Homo sapiens: one gene and its partners. The protein of the gene in region 4 purifies or fractionates together with the protein of the main gene of each other region. This does not show direct contact. Each region holds a gene or a part of one and is shown on either strand. Other genes may lie near its edges. The genes, in order: SPATA20, CCZ1B, NADK2, ETFRF1, ECH1, KLHL22 and RCC1L.

The links.
Region 1: the proteins of ETFRF1 (region 4) and SPATA20 purify together in Homo sapiens (affinity purification with mass spectrometry; 2 studies listed by BioGRID and IntAct, with this or other methods). This does not show direct contact.
Region 2: the proteins of ETFRF1 (region 4) and CCZ1B purify together in Homo sapiens (co-immunoprecipitation; 2 studies listed by IntAct). This does not show direct contact.
Region 3: the proteins of ETFRF1 (region 4) and NADK2 purify together in Homo sapiens (affinity purification with mass spectrometry; 2 studies listed by BioGRID and IntAct, with this or other methods). This does not show direct contact.
Region 5: the proteins of ETFRF1 (region 4) and ECH1 purify together in Homo sapiens (affinity purification with mass spectrometry, with the first as the bait; one large-scale study listed by BioGRID). This does not show direct contact.
Region 6: the proteins of ETFRF1 (region 4) and KLHL22 purify together in Homo sapiens (affinity purification with mass spectrometry; 2 studies listed by BioGRID and IntAct, with this or other methods). This does not show direct contact.
Region 7: the proteins of ETFRF1 (region 4) and RCC1L purify together in Homo sapiens (affinity purification with mass spectrometry; one large-scale study listed by BioGRID and IntAct). This does not show direct contact.

Annotation. Positions count from the first base shown.
Region 1 is NC_000017.11:50,553,263-50,556,352, reverse strand, and holds the end of SPATA20 (spermatogenesis-associated protein 20 isoform 1 precursor), read right to left. Parts: intron 2,103-3,090; coding exon 1,903-2,102; intron 1,122-1,902; coding exon 1,041-1,121; intron 862-1,040; coding exon 691-861; 3' UTR 501-690; downstream 1-500. UniProt on the Homo sapiens protein: May play a role in fertility regulation.
Region 2 is NC_000007.14:6,819,776-6,823,275, forward strand, and holds part of CCZ1B (vacuolar fusion protein CCZ1 homolog B), read right to left. Parts: intron 2,590-3,500; coding exon 2,506-2,589; intron 167-2,505; coding exon 1-166.
Region 3 is NC_000005.10:36,228,426-36,231,925, forward strand, and holds part of NADK2 (NAD kinase 2, mitochondrial), read right to left. Parts: intron 1-3,500. UniProt on the Homo sapiens protein: Mitochondrial NAD(+) kinase that phosphorylates NAD(+) to yield NADP(+). Can use both ATP or inorganic polyphosphate as the phosphoryl donor.
Region 4 is NC_000012.12:25,201,737-25,205,236, forward strand, and holds the end of ETFRF1 (electron transfer flavoprotein regulatory factor 1), read left to right. Parts: exon of another isoform or gene 1-2,096; intron 2,097-2,183; 5' UTR 2,184-2,220; coding exon 2,221-2,271; intron 2,272-2,354; coding exon 2,355-2,576; 3' UTR 2,577-3,407; downstream 3,408-3,500. UniProt on the Homo sapiens protein: Acts as a regulator of the electron transfer flavoprotein by promoting the removal of flavin from the ETF holoenzyme (composed of ETFA and ETFB).
Region 5 is NC_000019.10:38,821,795-38,825,294, forward strand, and holds part of ECH1 (delta(3,5)-Delta(2,4)-dienoyl-CoA isomerase, mitochondrial precursor), read right to left. Parts: intron 1,604-3,500; exon of another isoform or gene 1,046-1,603; intron 1-1,045. UniProt on the Homo sapiens protein: Isomerization of 3-trans,5-cis-dienoyl-CoA to 2-trans,4-trans-dienoyl-CoA.
Region 6 is NC_000022.11:20,489,296-20,492,795, forward strand, and holds part of KLHL22 (kelch-like protein 22), read right to left. Parts: exon of another isoform or gene 536-3,500; coding exon of another isoform or gene 473-535; intron 1-472. UniProt on the Homo sapiens protein: Substrate-specific adapter of a BCR (BTB-CUL3-RBX1) E3 ubiquitin ligase complex required for chromosome alignment and localization of PLK1 at kinetochores.
Region 7 is NC_000007.14:75,060,303-75,063,802, forward strand, and holds part of RCC1L (RCC1-like G exchanging factor-like protein), read right to left. Parts: intron 3,042-3,500; coding exon 2,990-3,041; intron 990-2,989; coding exon 905-989; intron 1-904. UniProt on the Homo sapiens protein: Guanine nucleotide exchange factor (GEF) for mitochondrial dynamin-related GTPase OPA1. Activates OPA1, by exchanging bound GDP for free GTP, and drives OPA1 and MFN1-dependent mitochondrial fusion. Plays an essential role in mitochondrial ribosome biogenesis.

The DNA of each region.
Region 1 (3,090 bases), on a different chromosome or scaffold from region 4:
GGAGGCCCTGCTTCCATCCTTTCGAGGCTGGGGCTAGATGGATACCCCAAAAGAAATGTCTTAGTCGTGACAATAGCAGCTCCCACAATGCACCAGGGCATATGCAAAGTCACCATTCTGTGAAATATAAAAGCTCATATAAAGCATCTCTGCCCCCTTTCCAGCTCAACACAAGGAGACAATGGGGAGGGGAGGGCAGGTTCCCTTCTTAACCTCTTTCTGAGGGCAAGGATTGTGCTTTCTCCCTCCTGGGCCAGTCCACACCCCCATGCCCACCCCTGGGCATCTTTACTTGGTTTTAGTCCCCTGACCTCAGTTCAGGGGACTAAATTCATTCAGGCTACAATGACCATGGAAGGGAAAGGGGCAGTCTGCTGACCCCTGGAAGATGAAGGAGAAATGGGAGAAGGCAGAGGGGTCAGGTGGGGGCTGCCAGAGGAAGTGGCCCTGAGCTGCTGGTTCCCAGTCCCTCCCTCATAAGCAAAGCTGAGGCCCTCAGGTTACCACGGGACACTGTTAAGTTTATTCTAGGGTGAGTGGGTGCCCAAGGGGGGCAGTGAGTATGGCCGAGGTCACCTGGTGGCAGGGTGCTCAGGGATGGCCACAGGTTCTATAGGGCCCTGCAGGGCCTGAGTCTCTAGTCAGTTGGGATGCTTCACCTTCTGCCCCACCCCAAGGGGGTTGGGGCAGTCATGGATGTAGTAGTTTTCGTAATTCGCAGGGATCAGTGATGGGCACTGAGCAGGCTTGATTCTCACACACATATGCAGTGGCCTGGTCTTCCAACCGTCGGAGGGTACTCAGGAAAGGCAGCTGGCGGGACAGGAAGCTCGAGGGGTCCCCATCAGCCAGAATCAGCACCTAGGGCAGCAGCAGAGCAGGGAGAGTCACCTGCCGGGGTGGGGTCACCTGCCCATTAGAAAGGCCCACTGGGAAGTTCCCTCTTCCCAACATTCTGAGGGGAAGGAGATGTTGAGGAGCTGAGGATGGGAGGGGGCAGCTCTGGGGAGGTGGCAGATTGGGCTCACAGGGATGGGTACCTTGTTAGGAATGTAGACAGAGTGGACGCACTGCACCAGGGCCTTGGTGTCCTTGGCCTGACGGTCTCCACAGATCACGATCTGACCGGAATAGAAAGGTCACTCCGGTGTGTCAGGGGAGGGAGGGCTGAGCCCTAGACCACCAGGGCTTCCCCATCCTCCTTCCGCCCCACCGTATATCTCTAAGAAGGAACAGGGACTCATCTCAGCTGCCAGGATGAGTTAATGCTTGGCAAGTGGGAACACACACACACACTCACACATGAGAATACCGAAGTGGAAATGTCATACATATACACAATGGTACAGATACAAACATGGGGAGACACACACCCAGAAGACCCAGAGCACACAGAGACCCATTCAGACAGACACAGAGTAGTCACACACACACACACACACACACACACACACACACACACACACAGTAGATGCCCACACAGAGGCAGATACCACACACACAAACACCAGACACACACGCATGCAGGCAGACACAGAGGCAAACCTGCAGATGGGGCATCCACATGCAGACAGACAAACACTCACACCAGCATCCCCCTCAAAGGTAGGTGCACAGACACACACCTCCAGGGTCACACACACCCGGAAGTACACACACACCAGTAACACAGTATGGACAGAAGCAATTACACTGACACCAAGACGTACAGAGAAACACTTCATCAGCCACCACGGACTCATATTAACTTCTGCCTCCCTGTCTGACAGGCCACGTGCCTGCACACACACAGACCTGAGCTCTGGGGACAGCCCAGGAACCCCACCCCCTGTTCCCATCTGCCATCGCAGCCCCAACTTCCCTCCTACCCGAGGTCCCAGCCCAGATGCCCTCACCCCCCACCTGCTTGAGGGTCTGCTGCTGGGCTGAGAGGGCGCGGACCATCTCGGGCAACGCCACCGGGACACGACGCATGCGCTCGGAAAAGGCGGTCAATAGGCACACACACTTGTCCATCCAGTCCTTGTGGCCCGTGAAGCCATGCAGCCGGAGCAGGTTGTGGGCTGACACGGAATTGGCGCTGGGCTCTGCTCCATCCTGGTCTACAGCACATAGGGAGGCAGGGGGTGGGGGTAAGGGCAGGTCACTGAGTCCCAGGACCCTGCCCAGGACTGTATCCAGGGCCACTTGGGGGACGGGACAGAGAAAAGGCCCTGCCCATCCTGCCCCTTCCCCGCTCTGGGTGTGGATGCCACTCCAGCAGTTATCAGTACTTTGCTGTCTTTTTTATGGCACCCTCCACTCTACCTGTCCTAGCCTCAACTGTTGGTCTCCAGGCTCCCTCCTCGCTGCTGATGCCTCTGTCCAGCCACTCAGCTGCTCAAGCTAGAGCGGCATCATCCTGTCCCCTTCCTCTCCCTCTCCCTCCGCTTCTAATCCATCTGTGAGTCTTGCCAGGGCTGTGGCCAGAAGAGATCCAAATCTCACCATGTCTCCCCATCTCATACTTCCACATCCTCTGAGCCTTCACCAATGCCTGCCTGGACTGAACACGAGTAATGGCCTCCTAACTGGTCGCCTGTTTCCCCCACCCCCACTTCTCTCCATCAGTGGTCAGAGTGACCTCCTTAAAACCATACCAGAGCAGATCACAATCCACTTAAAACCTCCTTGCCAGCCGGGCATGGTGGCTCACACCTGTAGTCCCAGCACCTGGGAAGCCGAGGCGGGAGGATCACCTGAGCCCAGGAGTTTGAGACCAGCCTTCTTTTCTTAGGAAAAAAAAAAAAAAAAGACGGCTTCCGTGCCCTGCCGGCCTCAGCATTCTCCTCGGTGCCCTCCTGGAACACGCGGGCCCTGCCTGTCCTCCAGGATACAGGCTGCCTGCACCAGGCCTGTCATGCACTGCTCCCTATGCCTGAACTCTCTCCACAGCTTCTCCATGGCCACATGGCCCCTCTTTCCCTCCAGGCCTTGGTTAAATGACACCTGTCACAGGTGTCCTCTAATCTCTCCCTAGGCTGAGTTGGTCCTCCTCTGTGGTTCTCTCCCAAGGCCCTTTCATTCACTCAGTTAACATTTATTAAGCAC
Region 2 (3,500 bases), on a different chromosome or scaffold from region 4:
GATCGTTATAGAGAAAAGCAGTGTATTTGACTATATTCAGGCTTTCCTCCATTCTATTAATAAAGGACTGGATTTTCAAATAAGTCATTTTATCCAACGGGAAGAAGCTGATTCCACCAAAAATGTCAAGTAGGTCACATGACTGCAAATGTAGCGTTTGCAAATACTGTGGAAAAAAAATAAGGCATAAAATTTACTAATAGTACACTGAATATAATGCTCCTTGATAACTGAAAATAATCTTATGTCAGACTCACATTTATGGTACAATTACATACTAGCAAACAGCACAACAATGAGGCCGTGGTGAAGACATGGGTGACTGAGTGTCAACTCAGTACCAATTCCAAGATACAAAGTTCAAACTATCTACTTAATGTTTATTCAGTATTGTGTTTTACTGCTTTAAATTTATTTTTTTGTGACAGAGTCTTGCTCTGTCATCCAGGCTGGAGTGCAGTGGTGCGATCTCAGCTTACTGCAAGCTCCGCCTTCCAGGTTCACACCATTCTCCTGCCTCAGCCTCCTGAGCAGCTGGGACTACAGGCGCCTGCCACCATGCCCAGCTATTTTTTTCCATTTTTAGTAGAGACAGGGTTTCACCATGTTAGCCAGGATGGTCTCAATCTCCTGACTCGTGATCTGCCTGCCTCAGCCTCCCAAAGTGCTGGGATTAGAGGTGTGAGCCACCACGCCTGGCCAAAAATTTTTTTTTTTTTTTGGTATAGACAGAGTCTTGCTATGTTGCCTAGGCTGGTCTTGAACTTCTGGCCTCCGTGATTCTCGTGTCTAGGCATCCCAAAGCGCTGGGAATACAGGCATGAGCCACTGTGCCCAGCTAGCACTTTCAAGTATTTAATTCCTGGCCAGGCACAGCGGCTCGCGCCTGTAATCCCAGCCCTTTGGGAGGCCAAGGCGGGCACATCACTTGAGGTCAGGAGTTTGAGACCAGCCTCGCCAACATGGCAAAACCCCGTCTCTAATAAAATTACAACATTAGCCGGGCGTGGTAGCCTGTAATCCCAACTATTCAGGAGGCTGAGACAGGAGAATCACTTGAACTTGGGAGACTAAGGTTGCAGTGAGCCAAGATCACACCATTGCACTCTAGCCTGGGTGACAAGAGTAAGACTCTGTCTCAAAAAAAAAAAAAAAAATTAACTCCCTGCCTTAATGCTCTTCAAATTAGACTAACCTAATGAGGGATCTATCCATTAATACTACAGAGAGTGCCATCTTTATTTCCCCCCCGAGATGGAGTCTTGGTCTGTCACCCAGGCTGGAGTGCAGCGGTGCGATCTCGGCTCACTGCAACCTCTGCCTCTGGGGTTCAAGCGATTCTCCTGCCTCAGCCTCCAGAATAGCTGGGATTACAGGCGTGCGCCACCACGCCCAGCTAGTTTTTTGGTATTTTTTAGTAGAGACGAGGTTTCACCATGTTGGCCAGGCTGGTCTCGAACTCATGACCTCAAGATCTGCCCGCCTCGGCCTCCCAAAGTGCTGGGATTACAGGCGTAAGCCACCACACCCAGCCAAGAGTGCCATCTTATACTAAAATCATGTCTAAATGATATGTACTCAGGACAACAGTTCTATCCATATGTTGACGGGTAAGAGAGAAATGAGGACAAGAACAGAAACCAGGAGATAATATGCGAGTGGATAATTGTGGTCATTAAAATGACAAAACAACAAAGAAAAGTAATTCAGAGAAACAAAAAAATTCAAAAATAGCTATGAAAGCTGTTTTAGAAAGTCGAATTCAAAAATAGATACAGAAGGTATTTTCAGAAGAAAATAAATTGAGAATTGTTGCTTCAAGATAAACTAGGCTAGGCGAGTTGGCTCACGCCTTTAACCCCAGCACTTTGGGAGGCCAAGGAGGGAAGATCGCTTGAAACCAGCCTGGGCAAAACAGCCAAGACAAGACCCTGTCTCTTTGTTTCCTTTTAAAAAAAAAGATAAACTGAGCTTGACAAGGTAGGGTGAAACATGCAAAATTCAATTACAACGAAAGAGGACAGCACTTGGAACAAATCTCCCCAATCGCTAATCTGACAAAGTCTGTCAAGGCCAATAACTCTTACCTACATCAAGACAGTTTACGCCCGTTTAGTGAACAGAACCAATCCCTGAGATTGTGCAACTCCAATAATTAAGTTTTCCTTATCAACTAATCTATCACACAAAAGATGGCTGCTGAGTAAGCCCAGAAGGACAGATGCAGGTAAAACACAGGGAGGCCAAACGATGTCTCCAGGACCCTTTAAGAGCCCCGGGCAAACGCAGGAAGCTCTGCCTTACACCACAGCTGGAGGGAAGGTTCCAGAGCACACGCCTCATGCGTTTCCTCGCTGCTCCAGTTTTGCGACGGTCTGTCTCAGGCTCTTTGCCACTTTCAAGTTCTGGGTTTTTTGTAGATAAGAAACAAACTTGTCTGTCTATATTTCTCTAAAAACCTGATGAATGCTTAGTAAAGTTATAAATGAAATTCAAAATACTTACCCGATGGAAGAATTTCTCTAATCTTTCTTTCAGAAGCTTGACGCCTCCGTCTTCCATGGCTTTCAGAAATGTACCATTAAAAAGCTAGTGAGGTAAAAGATTGCAGAAAAAAAAATCAGTTTCCTATGCTCACTTTTTCAGTATAACAAGTTCTTTTTTTCCTTTAGATTATTAATTCAGCTCATTAAATCTCCCAGTTCTTTCCAACAGAGAATATTTACGTGAGAAAACTTGAGTTAAAAATGTAAGTTACAAAAAATACTGTTAAGTGATGCTGTTTTATGAAACCACCTAATTGCTCTAGGCATCTTTCAAAAATTTCAACTTACCCTTAAGTTTCAATTTACATACATAATATCACCCACATTTCTGTTTTTTTATTTTTCAGTGTTCTGTTAATAAATGGAATCACCAAACTTTTTATCCTTTTTTTTTTTTTTTGAGATGGAATCTCGCTGTTGCCCAGGGTAGAGTGCAGTGGTGCAATCACAGTTCACTGCAGCCTCGACCTCCAAGGTGCGAGCGATCCTCCCACCTCAGCCTCCCAGGTAGCTGGGACTACAGGCATGCACCATGATACCTGGCTAACTTTTATAAAATTTTTTTGTAGAGATGGGGTCTTGCTATATTGCCCAGACTGGTCCTGAATTCCTGGGCTCAAGCAATCCTCCCACCTTAGCCTCCCAGAATGCTGAAATTACAGGTGTGATCCACTGTGCCCTGCCTCACTGAAACTTTTAAATCATAAAATTATCTGCATTCTGTATGTTCCTTGAGCACATAGATACACTTTTTCATCAATGGGGACACATTCCTACTATAAGGCTGAGAAAAGAGAAGGGAGTTCAATACTTACTGAATAAATGTAGGCATAAACCTCACTACCTGTTTCAAAGGCCTCATTATTTTCTTCTCTAAGACAAATACAGAGTCACTTTGCAGTCATTTATAGACTTCTCTTTAAACAACCCTGGAGCCTAGAGATAGGGGTAAGT
Region 3 (3,500 bases), on a different chromosome or scaffold from region 4:
TTTTCTTTTCTTTTTTTTGTTCTTGAGATGCTGTCTTGCTATGTTGCTCAGGCTGGTCTTGGACTCCTAGGCTCTAATGATTCTCCTGCCTCCGTTTACCAAGTAGATGAGATTATAGGCACGTGTCACTGTGCCCAGCTTATACCTTTCCTCTTTATGTAACAAAATCAGTCTTTCAAATACCTGTCTAGACATGATTTTTTTTTTTTTTGAGACGGGGTCTGGCTCTGTTGCCCAGGCCGGGGTGTGGTAGTGTGATCTCAGCTTACTGCAACCTCTGCCTCCCGGACTCAAGCCGCCCTCCCACCTCAGCCTCCCAGGCAGCTGGGACTACAAGTGCACACCACCACAACCAGCTAATTTATTTTATTTTTTTTTTTGGTAGAAATGGGGTTTTACCATGTTGCCCAGGCTAGTCTCGAACTCCTGGGCTTAAGCAATCCACACACCTTGCTTCCAAAAAAGCTGGGGTTACAGGTGTGAGCCATCACACCCAGCCTAATATACAATCTCAAATATTTTGTTTTAAATCATTACTTACTGAACTATAAAGTAAAACTAATTTTTAGACAGCATTTTAATACATATTTTACTTTTTAAAGGTTATAAAGAAAACACTAACAATATGGAAAATGCATATTTAAAGAAAATTGAAATCAAATATAATCTTATGGCTCAAAATCATTAGTGTTAATATTTTGATACCTACCTTCCCCATCTTTTGCCTACGAATACTGGGTTAAGAGTTTTTAAATAGTTTTGTCCTTGCTTTGTAATTTTCGTTATGTTCTCACAAAAGAGAAGCTGAGGAAGCATTTGGCTATTGTGAAAATTAATTAATAGATGTTAACTTACCAAGATATACTATAATAGATTAGACAGCCTGTGCCAAAATTTAATGCCTAGCCAAAAGCCTCATTAAACTTAGACTAAGCAACCAATGTCAATAATTTTTTAAAGGAAAGCACTGACTATGATAATAACTAGAAAAATCCTTCATTTAATTTAATCAACAAATCAACATGAGTCAGTAAGGTTTGAAAAACTATTTTAGAGTAGAATTTCTTAATATGGACCAACAGAGCATGAATATTCAGATTACCACTATCATTACCCAGCTACAGATTGACTAAAACGGCACTAACCACCTCTCAGTGAGTATGGACCACTACCCTCTCCCTTGGCAATCTCTAGTTTCACGGCTTTAAAAGAGATCTATATGCTGATGCTGATGATTCCCAACTGCTATCTCCCAACCCGGCCTATCTTTAGAGCCTCAAATACATTTATTCAACTGCTTATTTGACATCTTTCTTTGGCTATCTAACAGGCACCTCAAATTTAGAGGGCTAGATATTGAACATGCTAGATACTGAATACTTGAAATGCTATTATTATTCATTCAGTATCTAGCATGTTCAATATCTAGCCCTTGATTTTCTGGCCCAAGAATTCCCCACCTATGGCTTAAGCCAACAGTCTAGAGTCACAGCCGATGCCTCCTTTTTTGCTTATTTCCACATCCAATTACTAAATCTTATATTTGATCCAAGCACTTTTCTCTTCTTCCCCTCTACCACTCATGATCTCACACGTGAACCACTGCACAAGCCTCTGACAGGGGTTCCCTACTTCCACTCTTGGCACCCTATAGATTATTCCGAACACAGAAACCAGAGAGACCACAGCATGTCTCTTCCTCAGCTTAATGCCCTTCTACAAATGGCACTTTCTTCCTACCAACTCTCAGGCTTATGCCACCTGACTTCTGCTCCTTTCTCCTACCTCATTTTTCCTCCCCATTCCCAACACTCTAATCTCTTTGGTCTATTTTCACCAAGCTCTTCCTTTGTACTTGCTGGAATGCTTTCCATCCCTCCACCTAACTCTGACTCTTTTTAACCCTGGGGTGCCAGGACTGCTGAAACAGCTGCTGCTAGTGCTGCCCTTGCAGCTGCAACAGCCACCACTGCCAATTACTCCATCCCAACACCTGTTAATTCCCTTTTTTGCATTTACCACACCTAAAATTTCCTGGTATTTTTAAAAAATCCCTTTGAATCTCCTTACTAGAATATAAGTGCTGGGAGAACAGTGATCTTACTTATCTTGTTTGCCATTGTTCCTCAGGGCCTAAGTACTAGCTAAGTATTTGTTGAATGAACTCATGCATACATTTTCCAGAAAAGCAAGAATAGTGCAGAAGCAGATGCTACAGAAGATAACCCAGAAAGTGACAACAGTGTGCAAACCAACCCTTAGAACTGAGGAGAGTTAGATTAGTTACTATAGTATATTATTTTGTTATAATTATCTCTTACAATTCCACTTTAGGCGTGAACACTTTACACAGCTAGAAGTTAAGCTCTAAAAAAAATTCATCTAAATATTTGACTGCCTACTACTGTGTTCATTTAACTACTAGTTGAACTTAATCAAATGTATTAAACAAGGCACTGCAAACTGCCAAAGACAATGATAACTAATTCAAATGCACAATAAGCCTATTACAACAGTTATATCTAATTTACCACTTCTACTTTAAATAAAACTTCAAGGGTAGCTGGCCCTCATACTTCAATTCCCTATCCAGGATTTTTACCTTATGTTCCAAATTTTGGTTTGGACAATATGGAACATGTACCCAGGAAAAAAGCACATAAACCTTACTGTGTAAGCCCTGTAAATGCTAGTCTGGTAGTTCAGAAACTTTTATGCTTACTTCCTGGCTCTCGGCAAGCCCCAGGAAAATAAGATACATGGCGTTGACTGTTAGGGAACTTTGGCTTGAGATGGCGAAAGGGTCTGAATTTGTGGGAGAAAAAGTTTTGGAGAACTAACAAAAAACTTCAAGTTTTCTATGATTGCTAACAATAATAAAATTCCTAAAATTCCAAATCTAAATACAAAGTTCAGGCAGCATCAGAATACTTAACATTGAAGCAGAAATGTCAGTTCATAAATTCTTATTCCCACTCAAATTTCTTCTTGTGAACTAACTTTCTAATAAGTCATCCTCAACATTCATTTAGAGAATGTAAGTTCTTATTTTCTTTAAAGGCCTCGCTGGTTGGGCTATTAAGCTTTATTAACATGAACTGGCTAAATGAGACAGATAAAAAATAAGAAAATCACTTAATAAACAGCATCAATTAGAAAGGCTTAAATCACTATTCAACTGGCTTTAATTCTTCCCTTACATTCAATCGCCACAGCCAGTGAGTACTGAAGTCCAATAATTATATTTGTTTAAAAGGCATATGCAAAAGCTGGTAAGAATTTCTTGCTAAACCTTTGAAAATAACATGACTTCAAATATCTTAAAACACTCCTTTAATCAGACAAAAATAAGAACACATGATTTCTTAGACAATGTCTTACCATTAAAAGGTTAGAGAAATTACTGAAATTTAGAACACATTCCCAATTCTCTGCAATGTTACACAACATTATTAGTAACAGTCTTTAATATTTTCCCCAAAAACCTGTTAATTCTTCTC
Region 4 (3,500 bases):
GGCAGGTGAGGTCACAATGAGAATCTACACTATTGTACTTCGGGGTTCAACCCAAACAGAAGTTAACAGGAGAACTTAAATTATGTAGCGCATGATTTTTAATTGAGTATGGTACTGTAATTTTAATCCACATTTTCTGCTAGTTAACTATAAAATAACCCTTAAAACTGATCTAAAAGCCTATTTTAAAAATATAAGTTGCGGCCGGGCACGGTGGCTCACGCCTGTAATCCCAGCACTTTGGGAGGCCAAGGTGGGTGGATCACAAGGTGAGGAGATCAAGACCATCCCGGCCAACATGGTGAAACCCCGTCTCTACTGAAATACAAAAAAAAAAAAAAAAAAAATTAGCCAGGCGTGGTGGCGCGCACACGTAGTCCCAGCTTACTGGGGAGACTGAGGCAGGGGAATTGCTTGAACCAGGGAGGTGGAGGTTGCAGTGAGCTGAGATGGCACCACTGCACTCCAGCTTGGGGACAGAGCAAGAATCCATCTCAAAAAAAAAAAAGTTGCTTCCTGCTTGCCTATCAGAGTAATTCAGTCCAAAAGTCATTACGTGGGGCTGAGCAAGGCAGGCATCTGGGGAAGGTGGGGGCGAGAGAAAGGCTGGCAAGGTAGTAGCCCAGCAGGGGATACTGGAGCCCAAATGCAGTGAGGAGGGCCTCTGGGGGTAGGGACTTGTGCACAGCAGCAGCCTAGCAGGGGATGAGGAGGGCATCCTATTAGGGTGAAGGAAATGGTGGCACAGGTTTTTGGAATGGGAACAAAAGGTGAGCCTTACCCAGGAGGGAGGAAATGGTGCAGTGTAAGTTGCTTGAGCCCAAGAAGGGTAGGTTGGGGGAAAGGGGGAAGAGAAGACCATGCATGTGGGATGGTGGCAGTGGCACTCTGGCATTAGGTGGCAGAGCTCAGAGAGTAGAGTGTGTGCGCCGAATGGTGACAGCAAGAGGATTTTGATTACATAGTGAGAGAAGGGGTGATGATTATAAAAAGTAAATTTATTAAGGACAAGTGGGAACCAGACTTCTCACTGTTCAGCAAGAGTATTAAACCCATGTAAAGAGGGGAAATGAAAATAAACCCTGTAGTATTGGAATTGAATGTTAGGTAGCAGATTATATGGAGATTAATATAAAAGTCATACACACATACAACACCTAAATCCGTATGTATATACACTTGCAGCTTTGTCACTTAGAGGACCTGGGAACAGTGACAGTCCCATGGTGATTAGCATTTTTAGCACCCAGACCTTGGTTTCTAAAGCATTCCATCCAGATTATAGTTTCTAAATGCTATTCTCCATTAAAAGGACTAGGTTCCTTGGAGAAATAATTTTACAATGGACAATCTTAGCAAATACATTAATTGGGTAATCAAAGTTATCAATCACAATGGAACAAATTGCAGTTGCATCCACCTGATAGGATGCAATGTTAAGAGCTTACTATTCAACTCTAACAGGTAGTGGGAATTATTTTCTAGGTTTAGACTGTCATGATGCCTTTAAGTTTGGAGCCTCCTCTACAAAGTAGAGTTAACACATTACACATAAAGAAGCATGATTTTGCCTGTTCCTCAGGGACACCCTCTTACAGGTTGTTCATTTGGCCTCTTCACCACCAATCTTACTGCCCATCTACTATTCCAACCTGCTTAACTCACCCAGTTTCTGCTAGTTTTCAGCCTCCCTTTGGATAAGCACCCATCAGCATTTGATCAGGCTTCTGCTCAATGTCCTTCAAGTGGCTCTGGCCTTGCCTTGAGAGCAGGGTAAAGATAATCTCTTGTTTGTTGATAAGGAAAACTCAGGCTCAGCAAGGTTAATTAATCTGTACATTATGCAACTGGAATTTAAATCTAGTTTAACTCATTCCACTGTGGCATAAAAGGAGGTACACGTACCTATCTGTGATGACAATCCACTTTCTCATTTCCTTCATGTGACTTCTCACAATCACAATTGTCTTTGCTTATGTCTCCCATAGGAAAACGTCAATTATGACAGCAGGTAATTTTATCGGAAGTGTTTATAACTATATCCCAGTACGTGGAACGAAAAAGTTATCAAGAAATATTTATTGAATGTAAAAAAGGTTACCATTTTCTCAATGTGTATAACCTTTTTTTATTTTTTTAAGACTACAATGCAGCTAATTGCAAAAAAATTTTCCTTTCTTTAGGTATGTTATGCATAAAAGTGGATAATTTACATGATAAATGAAAATGGCCAATTCTTTAAGAGGAGAAGTACTAAAACTTTATAAAAATGTAAGTAATTATGTTGCCAATTTTATAAAAATGTTATTATATGACATGGATTGTTTAGAAATATATAATCTTTCTTTTTGAAGCTGCTGTATCTTGGACGAGACTATCCAAAAGGAGCAGACTATTTTAAAAAGCGTTTGAAGAACATTTTCCTTAAAAACAAAGATGTGAAGAATCCAGAGAAGATCAAAGAACTTATTGCACAGGGCGAATTTGTAATGAAAGAGCTAGAAGCTTTGTACTTCCTTAGGAAATACAGAGCTATGAAACAACGCTATTATTCAGATACCAACAAAACTAATTGATCATTACTACTTTAATTTAGCTATCAGTGCCAGCTGTTTATGTATACCAGATGTTGTAAAATAATTCTAACTTAAAATGGGAAGATATACATGTTGTGTAAAAAATCCCTGAGCTGCCCTACTGAACTAAATAGGTTTCAACTTCTGTTCATACGGAGAAAGTATCAGCAACTTTATGCTCAATTTTGATACAAACATAGCAATTTAGCTATACTACCGATCATAAATTAATGAGCACCCAATTTTGAATGAAAATATAATACACTTAATCCTCTAACTTAATAGGACTTAGCCAATTATTTTTAGCTTATTTCTCCATTTTACTGACAAGAGAATGCCATTTACCGAACATTTAATAAGCAAAATAATTTCTTACACACTTACTTCTCTTAACTTTTGAAAGGAATCCCTTATTTTTTCACCCAATTTGGTATATTAACAGCACATACTCAAGGTTCACTACAAAACAAACAGTTCCTGGTAATGATTTAAATGTAGTTATAGAAATAAATAATATGTATGGAGTCATTACTTCTGACCTTGAAATAGCCTGCTGGTGACTGGCATTAACATACATAACTAACTATTCAATTATTTCCATTATTAATGTTGCTGCTGCTACCTTTGGGCCTAAAACCAAGTCACCTGTTGTGTATCAATTACCTTCTTTGATAAAAGGAAATAAATAAATAATGTTATCCTATTTTTTTGTCATAAAGGCAGATTTGTTTTGCATCTACTTCTAAATATGGTTTTAAGTTTAAGCAAACACGCCTTTACATAATATCCACAGCACCTTTTAGAAATAAAGGATACTTCTAACAAGCTGCATAAAAGATTCACTGGTATACTATAGTGTCTATGGCTTATAAAGTATTCCATATCCATTTCGGGGCAAACAGTTCAAATTTCATGAATAAATAC
Region 5 (3,500 bases), on a different chromosome or scaffold from region 4:
CTGCACAGCCCGAGCCTCCCCGAGGAGCGCCACCCCCTGCTCGGCGGCGCCTGGTCCCATCAACTGCCCAAGGGCTGAGGAGTGCTCCGCCTGCGGCCCTGGTGCAGGATCCACTGGGTGAAGCCAGCTGAGCTCCTGAGTCTAGTGGGGATTTGGAGAACATTTATGTCTAGCTGAGGGACTGTAAATGCACCAATCAGCACTCTGTATCTAGCTAATCTGGTGGGGACTTGGAGAACGTTTATGTCTAGCTAAGGGATTGTAAATACACCAATCAGCACTCTGTTTCTAGCTCAAGGTTTGTAAATGCACCAATCAGCACCCTGTGTCTAGCTCAAGGTTTGTAAATGCACCAATCAATGCTCTGTGTCTAGCTCATCTGGTGGGGACTTGGAGAAACTTTATGTCTAGCTAAGGGATTGTAAACAACCAATCAGCACTCTGTGTCTAGCTCAAGGTTTGTAAATGCACCAATCAGCACCCTGTGTCTAGCTCAAGGTTTGTAAATGCACCAATCAGCACTCTGTATCTAGCTAATCTGGTGGGGACTTGGAGACTCTTTATGTCTAGCTAAGGGATTGTAAACAACCAATCAGCACTCTGTGTCTAGCTCAAGGTTTGTAAATGCACCAATCAGCACCCTATGTCTAGCTCAAGGTTTGTAAATGCACCAATCAGCACTCTGTATCTAGCTAATCTGGTGGGGACTTGGAGAATCTTTATGTCTAGCTAAGGGATTGTAAATACACCAATCAGCACTGTGTGTCTAGCTCAAGGTTTGTAAATACACCAATCAGCACCCTGTGTCTAGCTCAAGGTTTGTAAATGCACCAATCAGTGCTCTGTGTCTAGCTAATCTAGTGGGGACTTGGAGAAGTTTTGTGTCTAGCTCAGGGATTGTAAACGCACCAGTCAGCACCCTGTCAAAATGGACCAATCAGCTCTCTGTAAAACAGACCAATCAGCTCTCTGTAAAACGGACCAACCAGCAGGATGTGGGTGGGGACAGATAAGGGAATAAAAGCAGGCTGTCCGAGCCAGCAGTGGCAACCCACTCACGTCCCCTTCCATGCTATGGAAGCTCTGTTCTTTTGCTCTTTGCAATAAATCTTGCTGCTGCTCACTCTTTGGGTCCACACTGCCTTTATGAGCCATAACACTCACCGCGAAGGTCTGCAACTTCTCTCCAGAGGCCAGCAAGACCACGAACCCACTGGGAGGAATGAACAACTCCGGACGGGAGGAACGAACCACTCTGGACGCACCGCCTTAAGAGCTATAACACTCACTGCGAAGGTCTGCAGCTTCATTCCTGAAGCCAGCGAGACCACGAACCCACCAGAAGGAAGAAACTCTGAACACACCCAAACATCAGAAGGAACAAACTCCGAACACATCAGAAGGAACAAACTGCGGACATGCCGCCTTTAAGAACTGTAACACTCACCACGAGATTCTGCGGCTTCATTCTTGAAGTCAGTGAGACCAAGAACCCACCAATTCCGGATACATTTTGGTGACCCAGATGGGACTATTACCTATCGCCAAGCGGTGAGACCACTGCCTATCGCTGAGCGGTGAGACTATCACCTATCGCCAAGCAGTGAGTACCACTGGACCCCTTTCACTTGCTATTCTGTCCTATTTTTCCTTAGAATTTGGGGGCTAAATACCAGGCACCTGTCTGCCAGTTAAAAGTGACTAGCATGGCCGCTGGACTAAAGACATGGGTGTCAGGCTTTCTGGGAAAGGGCTCTCTAACAACTCCCGACTCTTTGGAGTTGGGAGCGTTGGTTTGCCTAGAACCAGCTTCTGCTTTTCCTGTACTTCTGGGCTGAGCCGAGGGTCGACAGAGAGGAAAGCCATGCAGCTCTAGGGTCCCGACAAGACAACAAGTTCGTTGACCCTGCAGCCATGAGCGGAACACTCAAAGGCATGTCGCCCAAGCGAGACTCGCCCATCTATCCTATCTATCCTGACTCTTGCCCCCGGGTCCTAATGCCTGCCAGACAAACTTCCTCTCACCTCTCTTCTCCGAGTTTAGTCCTGCTTCTAAAATTTGCTGTCTCTGGTGCTTTTCTAGTTTCTCCTATAAGAACGACTTCTAGAACTCTGTTACATTCTTTAGGCACCCAGGCTCACCAATCAGAAAGACATAATTTTTGCCCAAAGCCCTGTCATAGTGGCGACTACCTGGAATTTTACGATCCCTCCTCAGACTAACAGGCCTAACAAAGGTATTCCTGAAGCTAGGATATGGGGAGCCTCAGAAATTGTAGCTTTCCTATTCATATAAGTGAGGACAAAAGGTGTCACTCTTCCAACCCTGGAGATCCCTTCCCTCCCTCAGGGTATGGCCCTCCACTTCATTTTTGGGGCATAACATCTTTATAGGACAGGGGTAAAGTCCCAATACTAACAGGAGAATGCTTAGAACTCTAACAGGTTTTCAAGAATGCGTCGGTAAGGGCCACTAAATCCGACCTTCCTTGGTCCTCCATGTGGTCTGAGAGGAAAACTAGTGTTTCTGCTGCTGCGTTGATGAGCACAACTATTCCGATCAGCAGGGTACAGGGACTGTTGCAGTTTCTTGGGCAGGGGGAGAAACAAAACAAACCAAAACCGCGGGTGGTTTTGTCTTTCAGATGGGAAACATTCAGCCATCAACAGGCTCACCCTTGAAATGCATCCTAAGCCGTTGGGACCAATTTGACCCATAAACCCTGAAAAAGAGGAGGCTCATTTTTTTTCTGCACTATGGCCTGGCCCCAGTATTCTCTCTCTGATGGGGAAAAATGGCCACCTGAGGGAAGTACAAATTACAATACTATCCTGCAGCTTGACCTTTTCTGTAAGAGGGAAGGCAAATGGAGTGAAATACCTTATGTCCAAGCTTTCTTTTCATGGAGGGAGAATACACAACTATGCAAAGCTTACAATTTACATCCCACAGGAGGACCTCTCAGCTTACCACCATATCCTAGCCTCCCTATAGCTCCCATTCCTATTAATGATAATCTTCCTCTAATCTCCCCTGCCCAGAAGGAAATATGCAAAGAAATCTCCAAAGGACCACAAAACCCTCCTGGCTATTGGTTATGTCCCCTTCAAGCTGTAGGGGGAGGGGAATTTGGTCCCACCCGGGTACATGTCCCCTTCTCCATCTCTGATTTAAAGCAGATCAAGGCAGACCTGGGGAAGTTTTCAGATGATCCTGATAGGTACATACATGCCCTACAGGGTCTAGGGCAAACTTTCGACCTCGCTTGGAGAGATGTCATGCTACTGTTAGATCAAACCCTGGCCTTTAATGAAAAGAATGCAGCTTTAGCTGCAGCCTGAGAGTTTGGAGATACCTGGAATCTTAATCAAGTAAATGATAGAATGACACCTGAAGAAAGGGACAAATTCCCTATCGGTCAGCAAGCCATCCCCAGTATGGATCCCCACTGGGACCTTGACTTAGATCATGGGGACTGGAGTCGTAAACATCTGTTGAC
Region 6 (3,500 bases), on a different chromosome or scaffold from region 4:
ACCACACACAGACTGGCCAGCTCTGTTGCTCCCCTTGCTCCTGTGCCTCCCTCAGGCTCACCTGTTTTCCCTCTATTTCCAAATCCCCTAATTCCTTCTCCCCTCCCACCTCTAGTCCAACTTCCTGATGGCCTTCTTCCTGATGACCTGTGTGCCATCATGCCCAAGACTCTTCATCTCATTGTATCTTCTTCAGCGGCAAAGTCAAACAGAAGGGTTTTGGGAAACAGACTGACCTGGGTTGGAGCCCAACTCCACAGGGACTTACAACATGACCAAACTGAGCCTCGAGCTCCCCAATTTTAAAAAGAGAGATAAAAGTACCTACCCCATTGGGGTATTCTAAAATTGGTAAAACAATGAACATGAAGCATAAGCACACACCAGGTTCTCAAGAGCTCTTCCTCCCTCCCATTGAATGAACAAAATTGGGTTCTTCCTCATAGTAATGGATGCATAAAAATGGCAAGACCTGAGTAGTGGTCAGGAGACACACAGCCAGGAGTCTGGGAGGTGGGTGCCAAGGGGGTGGCATTTCCAGGGCCTACTTTCCTTTACTGAAATTCTGAGAGTCAAGCACAGTAACTGTGATTGAACCTGATGCATTTAAATTCATCTGCATTGCCTTTTAAATTAAAGATTATCTTCTAATAATTGAGTCAGTACGTTCAAAAACCGCAAACTGATTTGAATTGGAGCCTCTAAAACCTAATCAGTAAAATGAACCTACTGCAAATGCACTTTTGCCATGGAGCAACCAAAAGTGACTGTGGATAGCCAGCTGTTCAGGTCAGGGAGTGGCCAGTCCCACACTGTGAGGCATGGCCAAGCTGCAGGCTCTGTAGGCACAGCACAGTCAGCTACAAGATGTGAACATCTGTCTTCTCCACCTCACTTCATCCTACTTTCCTCTCCCCAAAATATGTTTATTCTCCAATTACCTCCAGTCATGCATCACTTAATGTTGGGGATACATTCTGAGACTTATATCGCTGGAGGCAATTTCCTCAGTGTGTGAACATCAAAGGGTACACCTACACAAACCTAGGTGGTAGAGACTACTACACATCTAGGCCATAAGGTACAGCCAATTGCTCCTAAGCTACATACTTGTACAGCATGTTACTGTAGTTCTGAATGAAAAAAACACACTGTTTTTCCTCTCCTCTTATACCACAACAACAAACACAGGAGACTTCTGTGACCAAATGTGTGAGGGTTTTTCCCCATTAACAAGCAAGCAATCAATTCTGCCACAGATACCAGCTGGGTGTCTTCTAATTCAGCAGTCCCCAATCTTTTTGGCACTAGGGACCACTTTCTTGGAAGACAATTTTTCCACGGGGTCGGGGAATGGTTTCGGGATCAAACTGTTCCACCTCAGATTATCAGGCATTAGCTAGATTCTCTTTCGGAGCACACAATCTGGACCCCTCACATGCATGGTTCACAACAGGGTTTGTGCTCCTATGAGAATCTGATGCCACCTCTGATCTGACAGGAGGTGGAGCTCAGGTGGTAATGCTGGATCACCCTCCACTCACCTCCTGTTGTGCCACCTGGTTCCTAACCAGCCACAGACTGATACAGGTCTGAGGCCTGGGGGTTGCGGACCCCTGCTCTAATTCAACTCTAACACTACCTGGAGACAGTGTCTGATCCCACAGGTTGAGGGCTGAGTCTCCCAGGTTGTTTCACCTGTGCTTCTGACCAATAGGCTATAAATTGGGTTCCCAAGATCCCCTTCTTGGGTTCAACTAATTTGTTAGAGCGACTCACAGAACTCAGGAAAATACTCATGTCTACTGGTTTGTTATAAAGGGTATTGCAAAGGATACAGATGAAGAGATGCATGGGGCCAGACATGTGGGAAGTGGTGCAGAGCTTCCAGGCCCTCTCCAGGAACATCACTCTTTAGGAGCCTCCATGTGTTCAACTATCCAGAAGTTTTCCAAACCCAGTCATTCAGAATTTTTATGGAAGCTTCATTATGTAGGCATGACTGATTAAATCACTGGCCATTGGTGATGAACTTAATCTTCAGCCTGTCTCCCCTCTCCGGAGGTTGAGAGGTGAGGCTGAAAGTCCCAACCCTCTTATGCCTGCCTTGGCCTTTCCTGTCACCAGCCCCCATCCTGAAGCTACCTAGGGGCTGCTGGCCAGCATACAAAAAGGCATCACTCTGGAAAGTCCAAAGATTTTAGAAGTTGTATGCCAAGAAATGAGACAAGACCAAATATATATTTCACAATATCACAGTACTGAATACTATAGGCAACTGTAACACAATGGAATTTGTGTATCTAAACACAGACAAGGTACAGTAAAAATATGGGACCACCATCCTTCATGTGGTCTGGTCTGTCATTGACGGAAACATCACTGTGTGGCACATGATTATATATCTTTAAAAGAAAAAATGAAAAATATATGCTGATATAAAACTTGCCAAAAAGAAGAGGTCTCTCTCTTCACTACTGAGGCTCAGGGCCACCCCCAACCCCATCCCCTGGATGCTCTACTGCTTCCCATCAAACACACTCAGTTATCTGTGCCTGCCCCTGAGTCTGCCTCCAGGACCTGGGACCTCTATCCAGCCACCCACCCATTCCTTTCCCCCTCCTGGGCTGGCTCATCTTTCTCACCAAGGCCCCAGAGATGGCCACAGCCAAGGTGTATACCCCATGACCACCTCTCACTTAGGATTCTCTTGCCTGGAAACTCTGCTCTATGATAATTCTCCCTTTTCTGACCTCTCTCTTTCATCCCACACACCCTGCTCGAGCCCATCCTTCTTTCCCAGTGGTTCACATTCCCAGTTTCACCTACAGCTCAGTGCCTAATCTAGCTAGTAGCCCTCCAACTTGTCTAATTTTACTATCAAAGCTACCATTTCCATCTTGGAAACCTCACTGTTTTAATATTTTTCCTTTCTAACCCATGTGCCCTATGAACCTACTAGTTCTGATTCCTTCACCTCTCCTCCATCTCAGACAGCCACCCTCCACTCCTCCAGGGCCACCACTCTGGGTCAGACCACAGCAGTGATGCCCCTACCAGTTTCCCTACCTCTTGTCTCATCCTCCCCAGGCTGCTCTCCTTCAAGCCTTACCTACTCAGCCCCATCAGCAGTCCTTAGTCCAAAAGGGATACCTGTCATCCCCTGAACACCTTTAGTCACCCATCTAGGCCATTCTGTCTCTCATAGTCCCATATTGGTCAAGGTCTAGCTCGATTACTTCTCCCTCTATCATTGTACAGAGAACATGACAAATATGCCCCACCATTCAAACCTGCCCTTTTTTTTTTTTTTAGACGGAGTCTCGCTCTGTCACCCAGGCTAGAGTGCAGTGGTGTGATCTTGGCTCACTGCAACCTCTGCCTCTCAGGTTCAAGTGATTCTCCTGCCTCAGCCTCCCCAGTAGCTGGGATTACAGGCGTGCACCACCACACCCAGCTAATTTTCTTGCATTTTTAGCAGAAATGGGGTTTCACCATGT
Region 7 (3,500 bases), on a different chromosome or scaffold from region 4:
CTGGATGAAGGCAAGAGTCTACAGTTCAGTGCTCTGCCTTGGGCTGCTGGCCAGGGGTTACCCCCATACCAAGTGCCAATAATGACATTTGCCTTTGGGCAGGTCCTGCCTGTCCTTTTCTCTGCAGTTTGTGTTTGTTTGTTTTTGAGACAGAGTCTTGCTCTGTTGTCCAGGCTGGAGTGCAATGGCGCGATCTTGGCTCACAGCAACCTCCGCCTCCCGGGTTCAAGCCATTCTCCTGCCTCAGCCTTCCTAGTAGCTGGGATTACAGCCGTGTGCCACCACACCCAGCTAATTTTTGTATTTTTAGTAGAGATGGGGTTTCGCCATGGTGGCCAAGCTGGTCTCAAACTCCTGACCTCAAGTGATCCGCCCACCTCGGCCTCCCAAAGTGCTGGGATTACAGGTGTGAGCCACTGCACCCAGCCTTCTCTCAGTTCATTTCTATGGGAGCCAGGGCTGAGGGGAATGGAAGGGATGCAAAAAAAAAGTATTACAGCAGGGCACAGTGGCTCCTGCCTGGAATCCCAGCCCACCAAGAGGCCACAGCAGGCAGACTGCTTAAGGTCAGGAGTTCAAGACCAGCCTGGGCAACATGGCGAAACCCTGTTGTTACAAAAAATTAGCTGGGCTTGGTGGCTCACACCTGTTGTCCCAGCTACTCTGGAGACTGTGGTGGGAGGATCACCTGAGCCTGGGAGTTTGAGACTGCAGTGAGATGTGATCGCGCCACTGCACTCCAGCTTGGGCGATGGAGCCAAGAATAGTGTTCCTCAGAAAGTGATAAGAGGTAAGAGCTGAATTAAGGAAGAAGGGTTCTAGCCCATAAATGCCCTACAGCTCACAGCTCCACATGACACGGGCTGAGAAGTTTCACGACCCCAGTGCATGAAAAGAACTCTACCTGTTTGCCCATCAGCACCCCATCCACAAGAATAGACTTCTCCTTTATCCGTCAGGAACAGACTATGATCCTGACCACAGGCGACCTAGCAGACAAACAGAGGTAAGGGGGATGAGAGGAAATACTTAGAACCCTGGTGTCCTCATCCAAAGAAGGACCAGCACCATCGCCTGCCGCTCCTGGGCACCTGGAGCATGGTCCAGGCAGACTGCTCCATGCTCATCTTACTCCTTCTCAATCTACCAGTCTCCCACTGCATTGAAACTGCTCTTGTTAAAGTAAAATGCAGATCTCCAAAGGGGCAAATCCAAGAGCTCTGCCATCCATCCCACGCCATCTCCAAAGAACCACCCCTTCTCCATAACCCTTCTCCTCCCAGCCCTCTCTTCTACTTTCACAGCTTCCAGCCTTGCTCACACACTCAGCCTCTACTTCAGACCCTTTGCTGTTGGGATCTCTCTCCAGGGTGTGTCTCCTGCCCTCCTCTCTCCTCACTCCTCATGCTACCCTGGGAGATGGGAGCCATTCTCAATGCTTAACTGTGGCCTCTGCACTGTGATCTCTGGTCTCAACAACTCTCCTCAGTTCCAAACTCATTTTTCTAACTGCCTAAAGAAAAGCACCATCTATTGAACAATTTTTACACCAGGCATTGTGTTAAGTCAATAACCAAAACCACCTAGTAAGAAACTGAATCTCAGCTGGGCACAGTGACTCACTCCTGTAATCCCAACACGTTGAGAGGCCAAGGCAGGTGGATCACTTGAGGTCAGGAGTTCAAGACCAGCCTGGCCAACATGGTGAAACCCCATCTCTACTAAAAATACAAAAATTAGCCAGGTATGGTGGCACATGCCTGTAATCCCAGCAACTCGGGAGTCTGAGGCACGAGAATCGCTTGAACCCAGGAGGCAGAGGTTGCTCTGAGCTGAGATTGTGCCACTGCACTAAAATAAAAAAAAAGAAAAAGAAACTATCTTGGAGATGTCTGGTAACTTGCACAAAGTCACTCAGTCTAATAGGTGAAGGAGGCCTGACATGGTGGCTTAACCCATAATCCCAACAGTTTGGGCAGCCAAGGCGGGAGGATGGCTTGAGGCCAAGAGTTTGAGACCAGCCTGGCCAGCACAGTGAGAATCTGTCTCTTTAAAATAATTAGCCGAGGATGGTGATGCACACCTGTAGACCCAGCTACACAGGGGGCTGAGGCAAGATCACTTGAGCCCAAGAGTTCAAGGCTGCAGTGAGCTATGATCGTGCCACTGCATTCCAGCCTAGGCAACAGAATGAGACCCTGCCTCTAAAAAATTTCCAAATAAAACCAAAAAGCCAGCCGTATCACAGTATGATTAGTGCTGTGGTGTTCTAAGCCAGCTGTATTTTGCTCTCCATTTTATTCTCATCCCCAGAATAGTGCCTGGCTCATGGTAGGTACCTATCATAAATATTTCAATGCACATATGCATGAATACAGCAAGTGCTGTGATACTTTTGCCTCAGCCTCCCCAGAGGCTGACGTTACAGGTGTGAGCCACCACATCCGGCCTCAGTTAGCTTTTTAACTTGTTCACTCACTAGAGTGTCATCCCCAAAAATCTGTTTTTTTTTGAGACAGAGTCTTGCTCTGTCATCCAGGCTGGAGTGCAGTGGTGCAATCTCTCAGCTCATTGCAGCCTCCACCTCCCAGGTTCAAGCAATTCCTGTGCCTCAGCCTCCTGAGTAGCTGGGATTACAGGCATGTGCCACCACACCCGGCTAATTTTTGTATTTTTAGTAAAGACGGGGTTTCACCATGTTGGCCAGGGTGGTCTGGAACTCCTGACTTCAGGTGATCCACCTGTCTCGGCCTCCCAAAGTGCTGGCATTACAGGTATAGCCACCACACCCGGCCCCAAAATCTTATTAAACTTTGTATCCCTAGAATCTAGCATAAATCCTGGCCTATAGTAAGTAGGCTACAATTTTTACTAAAATAATTTAATTCAGAAAATCCCCCTAACAAATTTGCCATCACCCTACCCAAATCTCAACTTTTCAAAAGCACCCCAGGAACACAACAAGCAGCTCTCGGCCCATCTCTCTTACCTGGACCACCTGGCCATCGAAGTCCTGCATCCTGTGGACTCTGTGACTTTCACTACAGCCAGGAACAAATTGGGAAGAAGCAAGGGATGCGGTCATGACAAGCACTGTGCAGCCCTTTCCCTGTCACCCCAACTGATGGCCCGTCCCCTCCGCTCACACAGTAACTGTTGGGGTAACTCTCAAGGTCAAATCTTAGGTCGAGTCAGGCCTGGTCATGAAAGTAAAGCCAAACAAAATCCTAGGTGATTTTAACACATGGCCAAAGTTGAGAGTGGTGTTAAGGCCCTCCAACAACATACAAGGAACTAGAGGGAAGTGTTTTTAAACACTAAAATGAAAAGAACTCACCGGGCGCGGTGGGTCACGCCTGTAATTCCAGCACTTTTAGAGGCCGAGGTGGGCGGATCACTTGAGGTCAGGAGTTTGAAACCAGCCTGGCCAACATGAAGAAACCCCATCTCTACTAAAAATACAAAAAATTAGCCAAGTGCGGTGGCGGACGCCTGTAATC